Linked DNA regions of Homo sapiens: region 2 is linked to region 1. Evidence: fine-mapped expression QTL. Tissue or cell type: pancreas. Region 1 holds a variant in brackets; the other region holds the start of a gene. All regions are shown on one strand. Distances are between the middles of the regions.

What was found. PIP is the estimated chance that this variant, and not a neighbour inherited with it, causes the effect.
Region 2: it holds the start of SPP1, and the variant in region 1 is fine-mapped to the expression of SPP1 in pancreas (GTEx, PIP above 0.99).

The regions. Positions count from the first base shown.
Region 1 is chr4:87,909,138-87,914,345 of GRCh38, reverse strand. No RefSeq gene overlaps it. Among named protein-coding and RNA genes, the nearest start is that of SPP1, 64 kb to the left of the region's middle. The variant C/T (reference allele first, on the strand shown) is at 2,699.
Region 2 is chr4:87,972,656-87,977,787 of GRCh38, reverse strand. SPP1 (secreted phosphoprotein 1) reads right to left here and starts at 2,074. Exons shown (of 7, transcript NM_001040058.2): 1 at 1,988-2,074; 2 at 839-906; 3 at 691-729. The coding sequence starts at 892. It overlaps LOC124900730 (a long non-coding RNA gene), which reads left to right and starts at 4,019. Exons shown (of 2, transcript XR_007058172.1): 1 at 4,019-4,149. RefSeq lists cis regulatory regions at 2,079-2,088, 2,123-2,132, 2,307-2,322, 2,760-2,768, 2,835-2,843 and 1 more, enhancers at 2,101-2,171, 1,934-2,433, 2,796-2,816 and promoters at 1,988-2,201, 1,991-3,078, 2,078-4,320.

The DNA of each region.
Region 1 (5,208 bases):
AATAGAAATTACACATTCAGTCAAATGGATGTTTTCCTTCTAGTGGAAGTGTTTCTAGAGTACATATTGTAATTTACTAAAATGTTTGACATCAAATTCCTTTTTCTGTCATTATAATTTCTGGCACATGCATTTCACATAAATGTTGGTCAAAGGATGTTTCTAGCACCCCTCCCACCCCAAAAGTTGCTGCTTCTCAATGTTTGTGAAACAAAATTATATGCCTTTCTTTTTCAGAGCTGGGTCATATGGGCTAGTGAGTTTACTCATTGGCATGTGATTTGGACTTTCATCAAACCAGCTAACCAAGATGAAAATGTCAACTTATTTGAATGAACACGTCTGTGTTACTTAAAAAAAAAAAAAAGCATGTTGGCATAACATACACAAACACGATATTGGATTTATTTTTATTCTTTGGACTTAAAAATGTAGTCGATTCTTATCATTACAAAAGAAAAGATGAATATTTTTAAAAAGAGTGAAATTATAGAAACATTCAAAAGAAAAAAAGTATCCAGAATATTACTATCAGACATAACCATTGTTATTTTGGAATATTATCTTTAAATCTTTTAACTAGACATATATTTTAATATTCCTTTTCATTTTTGAGATAATTATGTCCACATAGTTTTATATAATGCTTTTTAATTAACTTCATAATAAAATAGTTGTAAAGCATTAATTTGGCATCATCTGCAATTTGGATGAAATTATTCCATTGCATGACATTGTTACATTGTTTGTGAACATGAGAATTTATAAAATTATGGAATTATAATTTTAATTTTATAATTATAGGTCTAGAATAAAGTCTTAATTTTTATAATCAAATTATATGTTTGGCTTAAAATACATTATAATTTCACTTAATTTTGCAGATTACCATGAGTGGTATATAAAAATGGTAGCATTAGCTTTATTTGTGGGTAGGGAGTTGGCGGGGGGTGGTGCCTGTATGATAGAATACACACTACACAGTCAAGAGACTTGAGTGTCTAAAGCCTGGCTCCCTTCAAAAGCAATGAACTCTGTGATCTTGGCCAAGTGACCCTGAGTTTTAATTTCTTTAGCTGACAGTTAGGGGATGAAATTAGATCAGGGGTTCCCAAGCTATAGTCTGTGGATCAGTGTTCATTTTAGACAAAGTTCTATCCAGTCTGTGATAAAAGGGAAAACAAGTCAGTAAGTTTATCAGATAACAAAACTTATTTAAATATATTTTCTCTCTTTTTCACCCCCTAAGGTTATAGCCTTCTCAGGAACCTTAGATTATGACCCCTTCTGACTCTAAAATTCTGAAGCTATAAAGTAAGGTCTTAGGGACTCGAGAAGTAAAATATCAACTTAGTTAGAGGGTCAGAAAGACAAAAAATAAAAAGAAAACATAAAATATGTCATGAAGACAGAGAAAGAAGTTATTTGTGGTGTTTTAGCAATTTTGAATTTTTAACGTTATCTGGTGCTCTGTAAAGACAATAGAGGCAAGTTGACTGCAGTTATAGAATGCAACTTCCTGTTCTGCTGGTGAAACTTCAGCCTCAATTCCTGGCAGAGGTTAACATTTAACACGACCTTAGTTGGGCCTTCCAATTTTTCTCATGGTTAGATAGAGAGAGATTATTTAAATCAGCTTTACTAGTCTCATTTTACATTTTAATCTGATAAAACACGGTGACCAGAAAGCCAGATCCGATGGAAGGAGGAAGGGGACGTTTGCTTTTCCTTCTTATTTCCATTAGCTTTATGTCCTTATAGCTCTAGAGCACATAAAGCTAGGGAAATATGGGTTTTCTTACATAGCTGGTTTTAAAATACTGCTTTGCAACTCAGTATGTGTAAAAACCAGTCAGTAGTGCATTGATAGATGACTCTTTAGTGAGTTTGGAAGTGAAATTATAGCTGTGAGGACACATTTGCAGGCAAATGCTGGGGTGTGTTTAAAAAGCTGTATGCCCAGGGTTCAAATCAGGGCTCTGGTGGCTGCATTTGGGTAGATGAGTCATTCATCTGTCGTGACCTCTGGAGTTATCCTCATTCAGACAGTTTTCAGATTCATTCACGTAGACATGATATGTGTATGTCTTGAGGATAATAATCAAGAGCTTCCCCCTTTATCATGAATTACAGAAAGGATTTATAAACCTTAAGTAGAGTTTGAAATATTTTTCCAAACCAAAATAATATATTTACTTTTATCTACAACACTATGTTTTTGTAGTCTTCCAAATATTTCCCTCTAATTGCTTTTGTGCTGAGTTCTTCACTTTGATTGATGTGATTCAATTCTGTATGGAAGGCATAGCTCATTATTAAAGATCTGGAAATATACTGATAAAATATAATTGATTCTCATTTTAAAGTTTCACGTTTTATTTTCTCATTCATTAGGAGTAACTTCTTACACAGCTTCTGTTTTTGCAGATGCATAACATAAATAGGTTTCAATTTCCTAGTTTCTCTCTTTTTAAATGTGGGCGACAGAAGATGTGAATTTAATTCCTTCTGGTCCCTCATTCTGTCCAGGGTTTCCATTCATGTGGTTGTTCATAAGCATTATAGGCACACTTGGCTTTTGGGCATAAATTTATTCCCTACTCAACAATAGAAATGATTTTTCTCTGAACTGGGACTGTGGAATCGATGGCTCTGGTTAAATGATGTCTTTGTCTGAGTCTCACTTTTTAATGTTTAC[C/T]TCAGTTGCTTTTCCATTAACTCTAAGTTGCAGGGCACCTTTGTTCAAGGGCACTTTTGTAGAGGTAAACAAAGTTGGCTGGAGGGCACACAGACAGAAGTGATATCAAAGAGAGTCACATGTCTGGTGCTCCAGCTGCTGCAGCATTCAGGAGGCAAATTCCAAGAATGGGTCAATTTTATCAGTGTTTAAGAGAATAAAGAAATGTTAGAAGACTCCCAGAACCTGGCCCCACATCTATTTTCAATCTGCTTTGTTCGTGGCAAAGGGCATTCTAAAAAACAGGCAAGACAAGCGGTGAAGCAATCAGCTATAAATAGTAGAGCCTCTGTTTGTTTGAAGACAGTGTGTTCTGTCAAGGACTGCGAATATTTGGGTTCTTGCAAAGAACTGTGTCTAATTTTACTCAAATTTGCAAGTATAGATGAGAAAATCAAAGAAAAAAGTGCCCAAGAGAACATAGCACATCATACCGGTGTTTAATGTTCTGTTTCATTTTGGTTTTTTGTTCTAGTCACAGGGCGGAAAATTTCCACTTTGCCTAGATTGTCTGCTGTTGCAGGGCTGCTCCACAAACTCCATTCACTTTACGGAGCATCTGCCACATGCCAGAAACGAAGGCATGAGCATCAGAAACACAAAAGAAACATTCCCACCCATAGCCTTGCAGAGGAGAAAGGCAAGAGAACTGAGAATTCTAACTTACAATCCCACGTGCTGAGTGCTACAAAGAGGGTGATGTGGAAAGAAAGGTGAGGACTTAGGGTAACTAACTCATCCTGGTTTGTCTGGCAGTTTTCTGGTTTTAACACTGAAAGTCTTGTGTTCTGGGAACCCCCTTAGTCCCAAGCAAACCCAGACAGTTGTATTAGTGAGGTACTCAGTGGGAATTGCTGGAGGAAGTAATGGGATTGGGGAGGGAATAGGATGTTAGAAAATTTCCCAGAAAAGAAGAAATGTTTAAGCTGCATCTGAAAGGCTGAGGTAGAAAAAGATAGGTATGCTAGGCAGAATAATGGCTCCCGAAAATAAGCAGGGACTAATCATTAGAGCCTGTGAATGTTATCTTATATCGCAAAAGGGATTTTGCAAATGTGATTAAATTAAGATCTTGAGACAGAGTGTTCTGGATTATCTGGGTGGGCTTCTCTGTAAACATAAATGTTCTTATAAAAAGGAGATAATCCTGCTAACAGAGAAGCAGACAGTGGAAGAGGTGACAATGGAAGCAGGAGGTCAGAGGAAGGGGTCACCAGCCCTGGAATGCCCGTGGTCTCCAGAAGGTAGGAAAGGCAAGGAAATAGATTCTCCCCCAGAGCAGCCAGAAGGAGCTGGCCTTGGAACACCTTGACTTTAGCTGAGTGAAACTGATTTCTGGTTTCTGGCCTGTAGATGGTAAGAAAATAAGTGAGTTGCTGGGTTTTTTTTTTTTTTTTTTTTTTTTTTGAGATGGAGTCTCGCTCTGTCGCCCAGGCTGGAGTGCAGTGGTGTGATCTCCATTCTCCTGCCTCAGCCTCCTGAGTCGCTGGGACTACAGGCGCCCGCCACCACGCCCTGCTGATTTCTTGCACTTCTAGTAGAGACGGGGTTTCACCTTGTTAGCCAGGATGGTCTTGATCTTCTGACCTCATGATCCACCTGCCTCAGCCTCCCAAAGTGCTAGGATTACAGGCATGAGCCACAGCGCCTGGCCGTAAGTGCTGTTTTAAGCCACTAAGCTTGCAGTGATTTGTGTCAGCAGCAACAGGAGATGAATACAGGAGGGAATGTGGGGAAGGGCAATCTAGGCAGGAGGCTAGCATGACAAAACCTGTAAGAGGGCAAGGGATGTTCAGGATACCACAGGCAGTCAGGGTGTCTGCAGTGAAGCATGCATGGAAACACAGTAGGAGAGGAAGCTCCGGAGAAAGGTAGAGGCTGGGCTGTGAAAGAGTTTTTCCTCCATATTGAAGACAATGAAGACATACTCAATGCTTTAAAGCAGGGCCATAATGTGATTATATTTCATTTTGGAAAAGTCTTTTTGGTAACAGGATGGGAAAGTAGATAATTGTGAGGAGGAAGTAGATTCAAAGAAGCAGATAAATCCACTTAGATTTGATTGATTGGAATGATTACATTGTCCAGGCAAGAAAAGATAGGACTCCTGATGGCCAAAGGGGACGAAAAACGGGGCAGTTTCTAGAGATTCTTAGGAGGTGGATTATACAGGACTTGGTGTCCACCAAGTGAGGCAAAGAAAAGGTTGAAATTTTCATTTGGGTGCCTTGGAGGATGGGGCTGTCAATGCAGAGATGGGAATACAGGAGGAGCAGTGTGTATACAGGCTGTGGGTGGGAACGATGGGTTAGCTTTCAGGATTACAGAGGAATGAAATGCTTTCAAATGAGTGCATCTTTGTTCCATTCAAAAATTGAATGCCACTGATAATCATCGGGCACCTCTGAAGATGTGAAAGATTAAAATTACATTTTAAAAGCCTAAGTTACAGGCCAAACGTGATGGCTCAC
Region 2 (5,132 bases), 63 kb before region 1:
CTTTATTCTGTTCAACTGGAATTGAACTCTGTGTGCCTTTTTGTCCAAGCTTCTGGGGACAATGCCCATTTGTTGTTTGGCTGGCACAGTTTCATCTGTTGTGGAGGGGTAGGTACATCTTTAGTGCTGGTCAAATAATTATAATAAAGAGTTTGGTTGGTCTTATGTTTGGTTAGAAAATGTGATCTAACATCAGCTGACAATCACAATAGATACAAACAGCACACATAGACTTTCTTTTCACAATGGGCTTCTCAGCTAATATCTCAGACAATATTGTGAATATTATGGTCATACAAACAGTTCTGACTAATATCCAATGTGAATTTTAAACTTAGCAATCCACTAAACAAAGCAAAAGCTGGAATTTTCTGCTTTTAGATCAGTATGTGGACTAATGGAAAAAAAGTCACACAACTTCATATAACTTATCTTACATGCGATAACTCATCATACATGCCTAGATATTATTATATTTAAAATATCTGGGTTGGTTTTATAAACTTATATTTATTAAAAACTATACTGTGCTTGGTACTGGCCTAGATTCATAGCAGGCAGTCAATCAATACTTGTAAACCAATGGATTTGACTGAGAAGATAAGTAATATCGCAGCAAATACGTTTCTTGCACCTCTCGCCATAATTGAGTAAATGATTTAACTATATAAAAACATAAAAGATGCTTACCTGCTTTTCCTCAGAACTTCCAGAATCAGCCTGTTTAACCTTAGAAACAGAAAAGATGAAGAAAGATTACAAGAATGTCCTCCTAGCACATGGAAGCACACAATTCAGTTATTTTCAGGAATTTTCTTTAAGATGCAACTGTACTCACTGGTATGGCACAGGTGATGCCTAGGAGGCAAAAGCAAATCACTGCAATTCTCATGGTAGTGAGTTTTCCTGCAAAATATTTCATAAGGAATAGCTGACATCTTCATAGGTTACAACAGTGATACCTTTTTATACTACCACATTACAAAATGATCACAAATAAAATATATTTTCTATAGAATCTTTTCTACTTCTTAGAGATGCCTTTTCTTTTTAGTATTATAGTCTTTCAAGTTAATATTTATATTGCCACCTATTATCCATCTTTCACTATTAGGCAAGGGAAAGGGAAATTTTGCAAGTCTGTATTTATTCAACTTTAAAATTTAGAGTTCCAGAAATTATACCATTACTACCTTATATATCTAGCTCTCTAAACCTACAAACAGATCAACAGTAACTTAATTATATTAATAAGCTAGTATGGGAATATTTTTTAGAGAAGAAAAAACTCACAGAAAAAAATGAAAAAAATTTGCTTTATCCATTTTTCCAACATGTACTTTAAATGTGACTTTTAGCTTAATTATCAAGTAGGTGCTACTTAGGTGAAATCAAACTATCTCTGAAATTTGTTATTTAAGTAAGATGTTCTAAAAATTTGAAATTCAAAGGAAAACATTGAAAATAGCCAACAGCTTTTCTATTTGTAATAATAAGCCTACACAGTGTCATACAGGTATCTTGGTGAATATTTTAACAGCTAAATTTAGCAGTGGCATATTCAGAAAGGGTTTTCTTCCCCTTAAAAGTGAGATACATCATTTAAAAAATAGCATTGTAATTGGTTTAATTAGCATAAAAGATCCCTTTTCTTTTAAATTCCTGCACAGTCACCCACTGAAAATTATATAGGTATAATTATTCCAAAGGGGAATTTAATTTTACTATTTTCTGATTAGCATCGGTGGTTTCCGTTCTTTTGAGGACCCAGTGGAAGTATTTTTAAGTTTTAAATTTGATTGGCATTCAAAATATCTAGACACCTTTGTTCCAGGAGACCTGCAATGTATCTAATCTGCTTATTAAAAAGGCTAGAAAATTTAAGTCTGTTTAACAGCATTACAATTAAAAATATTTTTCCTTAGAATTTGGACTTCCCCATGAAATTCAGCTGAATGCACAACCCAGTAGCAAACTGAAGCTGTACCTTGGTCGGCGTTTGGCTGAGAAGGCTGCAACTGGCCTGAGACGAGTCTGGTCCCGACGATGCTGTGCTCTGCCTCCTCCTGCTGCTGCTGACAACCAAGCCCTCCCAGAATTTAAATGCTGCTGCAGACATCCTCCACCAACACAGGGAGGCGGAGAGATTGTGTCATGAGGTTTTCTGCCACTGCCCAGCCCACCTGCTCCCACACTTCCCCCTCTGGTTTTGTGGTTAAAACAAAAAAAAACAAAAACGCACACACACAATCTACAGTTAAAACATTACTTATGTACAATATCATTAACTAGCTTTTTCATTTACGGGATGGGCATTCAGCATCCAGGAAGAGCACTTAGGGATCCCATGAAAAAGGGAGAAAGTAGGGAAAAACATTAATGTAAAATTAAATAGAATGGATTTTTGTTTCTTTCGGTTTAAGTAACATAAAGGTAATATCTGCAACCACTCTTGCCTGTATGATTGTACTTATTGAAGAGCCAGAAGGCTATTGTTCAAGCCTGCAAGGAGTTCAGAAAACTTGCCTCTGTCCTTTACTACTCAAGCTTAGCTTTGTGATTTCGAGTATGCAGTAGCTTGTTACTTAGACAAATGGCACTAGTGACATTAAAATATAAAATTCTATATGAAATAGAAGAATGGTAATTTATTCTAGATGTTGCAGAAGTAAAGCAGTTTCTGACTGAGAGCAGGATGACTGCTTGAGAGGGCTGCTTCAGGAGCCAGACCGTGGTTCTGAATTCCGCTGTGTCACTGCTGACCTGTGCAACCTTGGGCAAATCGCCCAGCCTACCTATCCTTGTTCCCTCATCCATGAAATGCAATACTATTACCTAGGTCATGGGGTTTTTGAGGGGTTTAAATGAATTAGTATGTTAAACTAGCAATGCTTAGCACATATTAGATGCAAATGCTCTGCGTATCTTAAGGACTATATGTGTGTTAACTATTATGAAATTTTTAAGAGGGGCAGGCAGTCACGAATTGTAATGTCCTTTAAAAGAACAGGTTATTAAAATGAGAGTAGACGTAAGATCTTTAAATTGTATGCATCAATAAGGAAATTTTGCACATTTCTAAAGGAACAGATTCGATTTTGGAATCATCTTTTTTTCTAGTTTTTCTCCCAAGGTATGTAAAGTAGGCCACTTAAAAAGAAAAACATTTTTAAAAATTTCTGTATTAAAAAACACTTTACTAGGTATTTAAAAGGTGTCTGAATGAAAGAAAATTACAGGGAAAGTCCGAATATTAGAGCAGAATTCAGGGATAGCAGAGCTCTGGGTCCTTTTAAAATATTTAATATTGCCTTGAGATTACTTATCTTCATTTGCTTTCTCAGTTGTGAAATGCAGATTGCACTATTTATTTACCTTACACCTTTATTGTTAAGACTTGTGTGTAATTGAGATGAAAAATAAATGGTCCTATTTATTATTAGGTTGCTGCAAAAGTAATTGTGGTTTTTATTAGTCCTAAAGTGTCAGCTTCCTTTTGCCAAATATTACTTTTAATATAAATATAGATTAAATAATGTCTTGCAGTGATAGTGTATAGCTAATTCATAGGTTTCATGAACATTTGGTAGGGGGAAATATGTCTCCCTTAAATTGGATGTATTCCAGATGAATTGATATGATTGGTTTGTAGGTAATAAGCACCCATTTTAATAAGTAAGATGACGACTATCTCTATAAAATAGAAAGCACACAGATTATAAAGTTGCAAAATAGACTTCTTTTTTCTGCTTCTAAAAACTATTTTTTTCCTTTAAACATACCCGCATAAGCGTGTCATGTTGTCAATTTAGTGGAGGGAAGTCTGAAAATTCTAAAAACAACAAAATTTCCACAGGATTTACTGTAGTTTACTCTGTGCCCACGGGAATGATTCAATATGAAGCTAGAATTAATTATAGGAATAGATTATGCTGGAGCCCAGCCATCTTGAGATGAACCATACGACCCTTTACAGGACTCTTCTGGTCATAGCTCCGCAGTGCCACACGATGGCAGCATTTCTGAAAAAAGATTTCAGACCACAATCTGGTTCTACCAATTTTCTTAATTCCAGCGGGATAGAACACTCCTGTATTTAATGACAGGACTATATACAGCTGTGGAGCTCTCCATTTCTTGGAATGCCAGGTGAGGAAATATTTCCCAACAATGACCCGCTATGCAATCAGGGACAGAGACCCAGAGAACCAAAGCGTTCTTGTTTTGCTCTGTTGTTGCCTTAGGCAATCCCAAGTTGACACTATTGTCTCCTTCCCGACTTCTACACTCATTCAAAAAGTTCCTAGTCCCAAGGCCTCTCTCAGAGAAAAGGCTTGTGAATTCACGGGTAAAGAATGTGTCTGGGATGCTTTGGAGTTGAGAAGATAAAGTGATTTATAATGGGAGGCAATTCTGTAAAGTAGGAAATGGATGCTGCGTCATTCTGACTATCGGGGAGGTCATGTTTTGGGATGTTTCTTGCTGTTTGCACTCAAACATGCTGCTGCTGGTTGTTTTTTCTGAGTAGGATTTTCTGTCAGAATTAACATGTTAAATGATTTAAATCACAGTGGCTCTATCTGTAATATTTCCAAAGTTTCCATTCTTGATTGGCTAATGATTGGTTGTTAGAATCAAAAGGTCAAAATGCACAAATTCCCTATAAATCTTGTGAGTGGAAAGTAAAAAAAGTTTAGTTGTCAAACTAGAATGCAAAGAGTAATTTGTGATCTTAAATTATACACACTAAGAGGACACATGGAAACAAATAAAGAGCCTTAAGGTCTTTTTCCTGAATTACATGAAAATTCCCATATAATAAAAAGTAAGTGTTCAATGTCACTACTTTGGTGGACAACTTTATTAAACTCACTTCCAGTTTATTTGAACATTTCTAATTATATTTTACTTAGTAAAGTGTAACCAACTATTTCAGTGTTTTCAGCTCCACAGGTAATTATTTTTTTCCCTTGAGTCAAGGTTCAGACATGACTCTGATATTTTGGTAACACCACTAATCTGTCATAAAGAAGTTTGGAATTAAAGCTAATCGGAAGCCTAGCACCATTCATCATATATAGACTGGGAAAAGGGGCATTATTTATCACAGGGTAGCAAGCAAAGGTGGATGA